Homo sapiens: one gene and its partners. The protein of the gene in region 2 interacts with the protein of the main gene of each other region in a pairwise test. Each region holds a gene or a part of one and is shown on either strand. Other genes may lie near its edges.

What was found.
Region 1: the proteins of HOMER1 (region 2) and PRKN interact in binary tests that used the Homo sapiens proteins (3 or more experiments, as listed by UniProt).
Region 3: the proteins of HOMER1 (region 2) and PIAS2 interact in binary tests that used the Homo sapiens proteins (3 or more experiments, as listed by UniProt).

Annotation. Positions count from the first base shown.
Region 1 is NC_000006.12:162,259,113-162,262,766, forward strand, and holds part of PRKN (E3 ubiquitin-protein ligase parkin), read right to left. Parts: intron 3,654-3,654; coding exon 3,413-3,653; intron 1-3,412. UniProt on the Homo sapiens protein: Functions within a multiprotein E3 ubiquitin ligase complex, catalyzing the covalent attachment of ubiquitin moieties onto substrate proteins. Substrates include SYT11 and VDAC1.
Region 2 is NC_000005.10:79,507,540-79,511,193, reverse strand, and holds part of HOMER1 (homer protein homolog 1), read left to right. Parts: intron 1-176; exon of another isoform or gene 177-807; intron 808-3,654. UniProt on the Homo sapiens protein: Postsynaptic density scaffolding protein. Binds and cross-links cytoplasmic regions of GRM1, GRM5, ITPR1, DNM3, RYR1, RYR2, SHANK1 and SHANK3.
Region 3 is NC_000018.10:46,910,914-46,914,567, forward strand, and holds part of PIAS2 (E3 SUMO-protein ligase PIAS2), read right to left. Parts: intron 1-3,654. UniProt on the Homo sapiens protein: Functions as an E3-type small ubiquitin-like modifier (SUMO) ligase, stabilizing the interaction between UBE2I and the substrate, and as a SUMO-tethering factor.

The DNA of each region.
Region 1 (3,654 bases), on a different chromosome or scaffold from region 2:
CACAGGTTTTCAAACATTGTATAACCAAGGATTTTTTTCATCTTTTCAAATGATAGATGTTTTATGTGTTTAATATGTGAAGTACGTAAAGAGGAATGGTCTCAGGCTGCTGTGATTGGCTTGGTGTGTTCACCTCTCACCGACCTGCCTCTGTTCTCCCACCCAGCGTCCGATTGTTCCGTGAGAACAACAGGTAGGATCCATAATTGTAAGGCTGGAAAACCTTAGCCATAGGGCAGAGTTTCTCAGAGTATGGTCAGTACCAACATTTTGGGGCCTCTACCCCCAGACAAATACATCAAAATTTCTGGTCACAGAAAAAGAATGAAAGAAGATTTTTTTTCTCGCCATTCTGGCCATCAAAGAAACATGGAAAAACATGCAAGATAATTCTGCACATGAGAGTCTGTGAATCTCTGCTCTAGTAACTTTACGCTATCATTTTTAGTGAAGAAAAATAATCATATAGGCATACTGTTTGCATATAGTCATTTCAAATCATTCCATTCAGTCTTAACTCAAACCAAGAATGAACCAAGACATTTGAAGAGATGAAATCTCAATTTCTCTGTATAATTTTAAATAAAGCATTCGCTCTAAAAGCTAAATGCACAGGAGTTCTGTTGAATGACTGACTATGTTTACAATTTGAAGCAATTTAGTAAACATGTATCACCACTCTTCTAAGAGATTTTGGGGAAAACTACAGTTAATTGGACAAAAACTCCATCCTCAAAGAGATTAAAAGGTGAAGTCAGAACTGGAGTACAAAATAGCAAGTAATAAGGGAGAGTCCTAAGAGTTCTGAAAAGGATTCCCTCCAGTTCTAATGAGCAGGAGAGGATTACTTGTAGTTTAGCTGTTAGTTTAACACAGAGTTAAATCTGAAAGTTGACCTGGGATGCACCATCTCTCTTTTCCCAATCTTTACAGATGCAACATATCTTTACAGAGGCCTTTTAGTAGCAGCATGTAGGGTGCCAGGAAGTTGCCCCCAGTGTGTAGTGGTGCAGGGAGAAGTGTTAGGATGGCAACCCTGCAGCCCCCAACTGCACCATGTAGAGTTGCCTGAGCCAGTCCCTAGCCTGCCAAAAGCACAAGGCTGGCAGGCCACAAGACAGAGGGGTAAATGAGAAACAGGGTGATCAGAGGTTAGATGTGACTCAGACATGAGTGGAAAGTCAAGGTGAAACAGCGCATCATCATAGATCATACAGTACTCTGAAGGCTGCTGTCATTTACCACATTCCATAAATTTACTAGAATTTATTCTCTATTGTTTGGGTTGAAATAATCACACATTTCAATTTAAAAATATAAAGAGAATATTAGACATTTAGCAGAATTTTCTCAGTGCCTACTGGTACTTCAGACCCTATATAGAGAGAATACTATATTTTCTTAAAATATTATGGTCTAGAGAGAGAGAGAGAGTCAGTTGAAAGTGTCAATAATTCTAAGTTCATTCTCATAAAAGAAAATTCTGGAGAAGACCAAGGGCAATTTTATGATAAAACAAAATAAGAAGACTAAAATTTTCAGATGAATATGGTTGATAAGAGAGTAGAGCCAGATGCACTAGGAAATGTATTAAAGAACATGAATATGTACACAACAGGATTCTTGTGCTCAAATTGTTTTTAATATTCAGATAATAAGTAAAGGTTTAATTTTGCTCTAAACAATGTGATTTTTTTATTTTTAGTAAGAATTTTATTTTGGGAAATCAAATTAAAGAACTAGTAGATAGGTCTCCTAACATAATAAATCCAATCTGTTATACAGTTGTACAGGAACAAACATAGTAAATATAGGGTTTGGTACCATTTTTGGTTTCAGGCGTACACTGGGGGATTTGAAACGTATTGCCTGTTGATGGGGAGGGACAACTGTACATGTGAGACACCCAGAAAAAATGCATAAATCTCAAAGAGGTGCCTAAAATTCAGGCTTGAATACCATCTTCAATGGCAAAGGAAGAAAGGGAGAGGAGAAGACAAGAGTAAGGTTTGTTAGGCAGATTATTCAGTTGGTGCCTTCTCAAGGATCAGAGTCTCCAGAGACTCTGTCCTCCTCATCCTAGTAAGGAGAGGGAGACACCCTTACAAATGGAGACTTCCTTGGTAGATATAAATTTCCCTTACAAAAGGGTCACTTCTACTCTGTTTTTAGAGCTTTTCCTGTGTCTACTGTTTCTCAAAATAATCAGCTTAAAATAATACTTATGCTAAAGTGGCATATTTTGGGGTGGCATATTCTGGTCTCATACACACTCAAGGTGGAATTTTCCATTGTTTGGTTTATAATGTTGGAGCATGAGTATTCTCTAGAGGTGTCAGTGTCAGAATGATCTTATACATACTCTGGTTGAAACGTCAGAATTGTTATGGGCTTGGGTTCGATATTTATATTAATATATTATTCTGGTCACAAGAGTATTGCAGGGGTTTAGATTTATCTCATTTTTCCCCATTTTTGACATTTATTTCCATTTCTCAATTTTTCTTTCCAGACCTGAGGTGCCCAGCTCACATGAAGCAGAGCCTCTTTCCCTCCCACAATCATCTCAAGATCACCAGAGCATCAGTTAATGCCTTACTTTCTGGGCTTATCTACTCCTGTATTTAAAGATGTTGTTTCTACATTTTCACTTGTCCTTGGAAATTATCTTTTTTTATTTTTTGCAAGATCATCGAAAATTTTTAAGTTCCTTAAATTTTATTTAGTAAGTTTAGTAGGAGGCATTTCTTATTATGTTAGGCTTCCATCTTGCAGGCCCCAGAACTTTCTGACACTGTGAAGGCCATACCAGCCCACAACTGCCAGGATCTATTGTATGTGGGAGGAAAATCAACTTCTACCCTGTAAAGTCATTGTGATTATTTTGTGTCTTCTGTCAAACACAGTAAAAATTAATTCTATTACACCTTTGACTATTTAGATTAGAGAATAAAAGACTAAGAGGCACATATTAATTTTTTTAAAATAACTAAACAATAACAATCTTTGCCAAAGAAAAGCATTTTGAAATGGGTGGTAGCATAGAGAGAAGGAAGAGTCCTTTCACACTAAGGATGTCATTGCCATTGGCATATCTGGCTTTAGAAACTACAAATGGCTCGATTAGCTTTAGAGTTCTTTCTGCTTTTTAGAATTTTTCTACATCACTAGAAACATATCTCTTATATTTAATCTCAATATGAAAACCTGTTTCATAGTACTTACAATAAATGCATTCTCAAATGTTACATCAAAGTACTCCACCTACAGTGATGTCTCCTTGTAGTGAATTAGAGACTCCAATCCAAAACGTATCATAAACTAAATATGCACCCGGTGAGGCCATGCTCCATGCAGACTGCACTAAACAAACAAACAAAATGCTTTAATAATCTTAGAGCATTCCAATTACCTGGACTTCCAGCTGGTGGTGAGTCCTTCCTGCTGTCAGTGTGCAGAATGACAGCCAGCCCCACAGAGTCTCCTGGGAGGACTGAGCTGCTGAGGTCCACCCGAGTCAAGCTCTGGGGCTCCCGCTCACAGCCTCCCGCCGCGTTTCTGGGGTCGTCGCCTCCAGTTGCATTCATTTCTTGACCTTTTCTCCACGGTCTCTGCACAATGTGAACAATGCTCTGCTGATCCAGGTCACAATTC
Region 2 (3,654 bases):
TGTTTAAAACATGTTGGAGGAAAAAAAATCAAGCAGCAGTTTTTCATGTTGATGGCTGCATTTTGTCTAGACTGTGGAGTAGTAGCATCATGGAAGAAAATCAGTTTTCCAGAACCTTTAAGCTGCATGAATGCCTGTCATTTTACCAAGGGAAGCTTAGGATGAATTTTTTTTTCCCTGCCTGAGGTTTCTTTGTACAAATAGCACAGGAGGACCCCAGCCCCACAGCCCCATGCAGATGGCAGCCTGGCGGGGGGTCGCACCAGTCCTGTCCTCACGTTGGCAGATAGAGATATCTACTCTGAAGCCTCTGTAGGGGCCTGGGCACCTTTGGGAGCCTGAGCTGGAACTGAAGCTGGAGCTGCAGCCTGGGCCTTGGTTTGATCCTTGTCCTTGGCCTTTGGCCAGCACACCCTGAGCCCCTTGGCAATGCGGGCACGAGCATGCTTCCCAAGCTTGGGGTGGACAGTGTAGGCAAGTTGAGCTTGCGGCTGACACCCTTTGGGATCTTGGGCTTAACCTCCTTGGGCTTTAGGAGGGCCTTGATAGCCTTGGCATGTGCACTCATGGCCTTGGCACTGTTAGCCTGCATCTTCTTTAGGCCCTTCTTGTTGTGTTTCTTGGCAAACTGCATGTTCCTCAGGAACTTGGGGTCCACCCCCTTAAGAGATTCGTATCTTTGTGCTTCGGGTTTCTTGATACCATTTCTGTGCCATTTTTGGGACTGGTTGTGTGTGGTGTGGTTCTTGGACTTGGCCATGTCTGCACCTTAAGGCGCGGCTCCTGAAGCGCCTAGAATCTGAAGAGACAGGATGAATTTAATACTAAGGGGGCTGTTGTTTAAAGTGGGAAAGTTAGCACCACACATAACATGCATTTAGACACTTAGCATAATTAATTTGTTTATAAATGAATGTATCTGCCCTTTAGTTAATAAAGTTCTATATATGGACTGAGGAGAAAAAGGAGCGAGCATTTTGTGGTGCTATTTTTTTTTTTTTGGAAAGCCTGTATTTGGGGCTATGACCCTTTCTCATTGATAGTGACTTGAGTAGAGAGAGGAAGGGTAGATGGAAGTAGAAGAGCATACAGCAAAGGCATTTGCTGACGTTTCCACACTTTATGCGTATTTATGCCTAATAAATGTTTGTGGAATTAGCATAGCTGCCTGGACCTATTTCAAGCAAAAGGAAACAGGGCTTTAAATGGCTTTTAAAGCTTTACCTTGGCAATCCATAATTACCTTACTGTAATAGATATCTAAAATTTAATACTGTGGGTAAAGTGTTTCACATATTACAACCTTCTTTTTTTAAACTAATGTTAGGTTATAATAAGGATTTATCTTCGTCTTAATTGTAGATAATTATTGCAAGTCTAGGGGCAGTCTAAGCAAAGGAATTATTTTTAATAAAATCAGTGATTGGGCAGAAAAAAATTATGGCTCCCCTAATAGTAGTTTATGAACTTTTTGGAAATGGAGAAGAACAGCTGAAACTTGACAGTTGGCAAAGTCTGTCAAAGTATCTTGGATGTTGCATGAACTGTTAATTGCAGTGAAGGCAACTAAAGTATGGGTTTGTAAAATAGGTGTATCAGATCCCCTAAAAATTAAGGCATTCATGTATGTAAAATGAAGTCTCTGAAAAGTTTTGAAGCCTCAGTGAGGAGCCCCTGTTAGGTATGACCCCCACCCCCACCTCCAAATAGTATCTCATAATGACAGCAGTGAGTCAGTAGCTATTTCAGAACTATCACAGTAGGCAACAGAAATCAAGTAACTTCAACCACTTATTTCATGAAACCCTTTGTTTTTACTTAGCTCATTTTGGCAACCTAGTGCCATCAGCAATGGTAAAGAATTCTTTCCCTCCCTTCCCTTATTAAGAGCTACTTATACATAAAATGGGGCTCTCCCTGCTAATGGAATCTGTTAATGCTGTTTCTGATTTATCTCACCTGCCTATGGGAACTTCTGGAGTCCTTCCTTCCCCTCTTTCCCCAAATAACTTCCAGAAGCATGGAAATGAGTGCTGCTACATTGCAGCCCAAACTGAGTCTCTTTGCTGAAAGATGGGAAGCTGACACCTCCTTCTGCCTCAAACTGCAGGGTTCTGCTCTCTAGGGGTTGTAGCAAAAATGTGAAAATCTTGATCCAGCACTATAAATGGGTTTTATTGCAAAGATAACCACCCTATCATATCTGACAATAGACAACTTAGATGCAAGTCCTTAATTCGTCATTTGTTCATTTTACCAACTTTGAACCTTTGTTATAGTGCGTGTACTTACCTCAGTGCTGCTGATAGGAAGGCCAATACAATGTGCTCCTTCCCTTAGTGAGTTTATACTTTGGAAGTTGGGCAGACAGTCAAGCCTAAAATTAAAATGTGCAATGAAATTTTGTAGGAGCTATAATGTAGGGCATTATGGAGACACAAAGTGTGTGTTGGGGGGGCATTAGCTGCTGAGGGAAGGATAAAAAGGCTTTGTAGAGGAGGTGATAGTTGTTAAATACTGAAAGATGAGTACAAGTGAGCCTCTTAGACAAATAAGAGGGCATTCAAGGCAGAGAGAACAGTGATTGACACCACTAAAACGAGGAACTGCAAAGGAGTTTGGCATGACAAGCTTGTTTGCTTGAGCTAGCTCCCTTTGGTGTAGCAAGAGATAGGTCTAGAGCCTTATTATGCAGGGACTGGGTTGGAGAACCATGTAGATCAAATGAAAGATTGGATTATCCTGTAGTTTAGTGTGTTTAGAGGTTTTTTTGGCTATGACCCGTTGGAAAGATAAGCATCTTTACATTGCAACCCAATATGCTTGTATATAAATGATAAAATGTCACTACATAATACCCTTGCTTTGTATGGTACACTCTGGTAGTTTCTATTCTGTTCCGTTCTATTTTATTTTTAAGATAGACTGATGATGGTGACCCACTCAATTTATTTAATGACGCTGTGTTAGCAACTGGTAATTTGAAAAGCACTTCTCTTCTGTGTGAAGATTACTAAAGGGTTTTAAGCAGAGTAAGAACATGATCAGGGAAGTAGAATAAGAAAGCAATTTTAAAAATCATTTACAATTTGGTTTTGTGTCTTGTATCCTGTGGAAACACCAAGCCAGAACAATGAACTCTGGCTGGGTAGAGGAAGTGGACAGTTGGGCAGGCCCTGGAAGGTTCCGAAGTGGGGAGGGGAGGGATGGTGACTGAGAGATGTGTAGTTGGCTGAACGGGGCTTTTTCAGAATTAGGACATTTCATTGGAGAGGTAAGAATGTAGCAAAGAGCATGGTATGTTCTTAGCAGAGTCACTAACTATGGGTCATAAAATAGTGAATTTGGGAGTTAAGGGGTTGACAGAAGAAACTGTCCTTATTCATAGTTTATAGTTTTGAGTGATTAAACATCTCAGAAGAAAAGGTGGTTATATCCCAAAAGGTCTAACCTCTCTACTGCCATGTGATTTTTTTTTTTTTCAGTCTTTAGTGTTTAGTTGAAGTATTTATTTTTAGTTACTGGATTGTTATTTCAGATTAATATGACTAACTGGACAGAAGAGTAGGGAAAATGAGTGCCGAGTGCTTAATGTTTTCTGATATAATTTTTTTCTGATGTAGTTTTTAAATGACTATAAAACATTTTACATAG
Region 3 (3,654 bases), on a different chromosome or scaffold from region 2:
TCCTTCCAGAAACAACTATTGAAGGCTGTATTCCTGTAAAATAAAAAAGGTATCTAAAAGAGAAAAACATGGGATCCAAATAACAATAGATCTAACCCAGGAGAACAATGTGAAGTAATCCCAGGATGACAGCTGGGTAACAGGTCTACTAAGCTTCCCAAATTAGAAAAGGCAGGCCAAGACTCCGGAAAGTCTACCAAGACAAGCTGAATGGCTACAACATGAGAACCCATTATAATATTAAATTTTAAAAATAACTTCAATGAGCTTTCCTCATTCAACCAGGACTTTGTTATATTTCTTTTTTTTTTTTTTTTCCTGAGACGAAGCCTTGCTTTGTCACCCAGCCTGGAGTGCAATGACATGATCTTGGCTCACTGCAACCTCCACCTCCCGGGTTCAAGCAATTCTCCTGCCTCAGCCTCCCGAGTAGCTGGGATTACAGGTGCCCACCACCACGTCGGGCTAATTTTTGCATTTTTAGTAGAGACGGGGTTTCACCATGTTAGCCAGGCTGGTCTCTAACTCCTGACCTGAGGCGATCCGCCTGCCTGGGCCTCTCAAAGTGCTGGGCTTACAGACGTGAGCCACTGTGCCCGGCTGACTTTGTTATATTTCCTTTTTAAGGATCACAGGTTTAACAGAAGTGAAGTTTCTCTATGGCTCCACAGTACTTGGTTCTATAGTAACTAATACTCATGTCAACATACATATTTAAAAGAGTGGCTATTAGTACTCAATTTCTAGATTTTCCTGCAGAAGCACAGAAAACTTTAGAAGAGTTATAAAACATTATATAAATGCAATAAATCTTGCCAATGTAACAGTACTAACCAAAAACAAAGGCTGGGGCCGGGCTCAGCGGCTCATGCCTGTAATCCCACCACTTTGGGAGGCCAAGGGAGGGGGAGTGGATCACCGGAGGTCAGGAGTTCAAGACCAGCCTGACCAACATGGTGAAACCCTGTCTCTATTACAAATACAAAAATTAGCCAGGCATGGTTGCAGGTGCCTGTAATCCCAGCTAATCGCGAGGCTGAGGCAGGAGAATCGCTTGAACCCAGGAGGCGGAGGTTGCAGTGAGCCAAGATGGCGCCATTGCTCTCCAGCCTGGGCAACAAGAGCAAAATCCTGTCTCAAAAAAAAAAGGAAAAAAGAAAACAAAGGCTAGGAAGGGAGGAGGGAAAAACAAAGGCAAGGTTTGGCTTTTAAATCCCAAAAGGAAAGGGATCGGTGTTATATCTTTTTCTGAAAGACCAGGAAGTGAGGAAATATAGTTGTCTCTCAGTATCCGTAGGGGGCTGGTACCAGGGTCCCCTGCAGATACCAAAATCCAAGAATGCTCAAGTCTCTTACATGAAATGGCATAGTATTTGCATATAAGCTATACACATCCTCCTACGTACTTTACATCATTTCTAGTTTACAATACCTAATATATGGCAAATGCTATGAAATGGTTGTTATACTATACTGTTTAGGAAATACTGACAAGGAAAAAAGTCTGTACATGTTCAGTACAGATGTAACCAACCTTTTTTCCTGAATATTTTTGATCCAAGGTTGGTTGAAACCAAAGATAAGTCATTCACAGACATGAAGGGCCAAATATACTGTCTAAAAGTGATAGGTCAATAAACAGAAATTTATAATAAAAAGTTAAAAATAACAGCAAAATTAGGAACCAAAATGTAACTGATAGAAATCAAAGTCTAGGACAGGTGGAAAATGACCTAAATTTCTTATCTAGCAAAAAGTTAAGAAATATTTTTTTTGAGTTGAAAAAATATAGAGAGAAAGGCATGGTATATTTTTAGACTTTTGGAACAACAATAAAACCCTAAAAACAAACAAACAAAAATGGTTAAAAGCATAATGGGAGTGGGATTTAATGGAAAAGGGAAGACTTTCACTATTTTGAATTTTTTCAGTACTGTCTGCACAAATATTGCTTTCATTTAAAAAATATGAGAAATGGAAATGAGAGAATAAAAAATGTGACATCAGGTGATCCACCCGCCCCAGGCTCCCAAAATGCTGAGATTACAGCCTTGAGCCACTGCGCCCAGCCTATTTCACTTTAAGTTAAATATATTTTGTTTCGAACGTGCTTTCATAGACATGAGCTCAGGTGAAGCCTTGGAAATTTTAGTTGCATCCCATAATAGCTTTGAATCATATGGAAGATTCTGTTATATCTATCATAGCTATTAGTCTGTATCCCTGCCCAATAAATGGGGAGAGGAGCGTGATGAGGACCTCTAACCTCAAATCCCCCATTAACTTCCCATTCTCCTGCTGCATCCTAACAGCACTTGAAGTTATCAGGATGGTGACTCCTGGTAGGTGTAAGGAAACCAAACACTTAAGCCTTCTAGACAGAAGACCTTCTGTTACAGAATTACTTAGGCTTCTTAGCATGAAAGACCCAAATCTGATCTTCGAATTATGACACAACAAATTTACCCAGTTTGGTAAATGTTCTGGTTTACCCAGTATCTATTGATAAAGTTATCATCGCTGGCTCTCTCAGGCCAAATGCACAACCAGATTCTCACAGGCACATTCTCTCTCATTCTGAGACACACACAGAATAAATTCTCAATGCATGAAAAGAAGGGGATGAAGAATACAGAAGGGAGATCCTTAAAAAAAAAAAAAAAGTCACTACAATAGATCCCCCTCCTCCCCATTGAGTGATGAGAAGTAGGGAAAGTAGATTAACCAGGTTAAAGTGTAGCAGGGACCTTTTTGTGAATGACTGCCACCAGCAGACCACAATATTGGAAATATGCAACTGGAAGGGTAAAGAAAAAGCTGCTCTGGTTAAAGAAGAGGTAAGTGATTCCAGAAACTCAACTCCTGCTCTCCTCCATCCCTGTGCTTAGCTCTTCTACAGACTAGTTTGAGACAGGGTCTCCCTCTGTCGCTCAGGCTGGAGTGCAGTGTCAAGATCAGAGCTAGCTGTAACCCAGAAATCCTGGCTTCAAGCGATCCTCTTGCCTCTCAAAGCGCTGGAATTACAGGTGTGAGCTACCAAGCCCTGCCCTCCAGACCATTTTTGGAGGAGGAAGCAAGGCAGCAGTGACAGAAGTTCAGGCCATCAAATCTTATGATCTTGTCCCACATTAATTCACAACTAGTTAATTCAAAATCTGTTCATTCACAAACTAATCACTCCTTCAGCTCCTAACAACACAGATGCCATAAATAAGCAACTGGTAAATTGAGTAATTTCTTCTCTGGCACCTTGAAAGCTTCTAATATATAACACATTATTGTAACCATCTTTGAGCACACAGGCCACATTTTCCCTTTTCAGAGAACTTCCCCACTTCCTTTCCTTCAATCCATCAGGATAATCTGCTGATCAGGTTTGTGTGCTTTGACTCTAAGCCCCCGGCTATGGATGATTAGAACAGAAGTAGAGACCTAAACTCAGCCAATCAGATTCTCTCTCCCAGAAGAACTGGAAGAGAGGTGGGCTGGTATTCTGGTCACCCGGACTGAAAGGCAACAAGGTATAGAGCTGCCATATTCTGCTATGACCAGCCAAGATCTCTGGTACTGGCTCACGCAGCAGTCTCCAAAACTGAAATAGTCAGGCGACCCCCTTAACAGTTGCCTAATCGAATAACCAACCCTCCCCCCCCC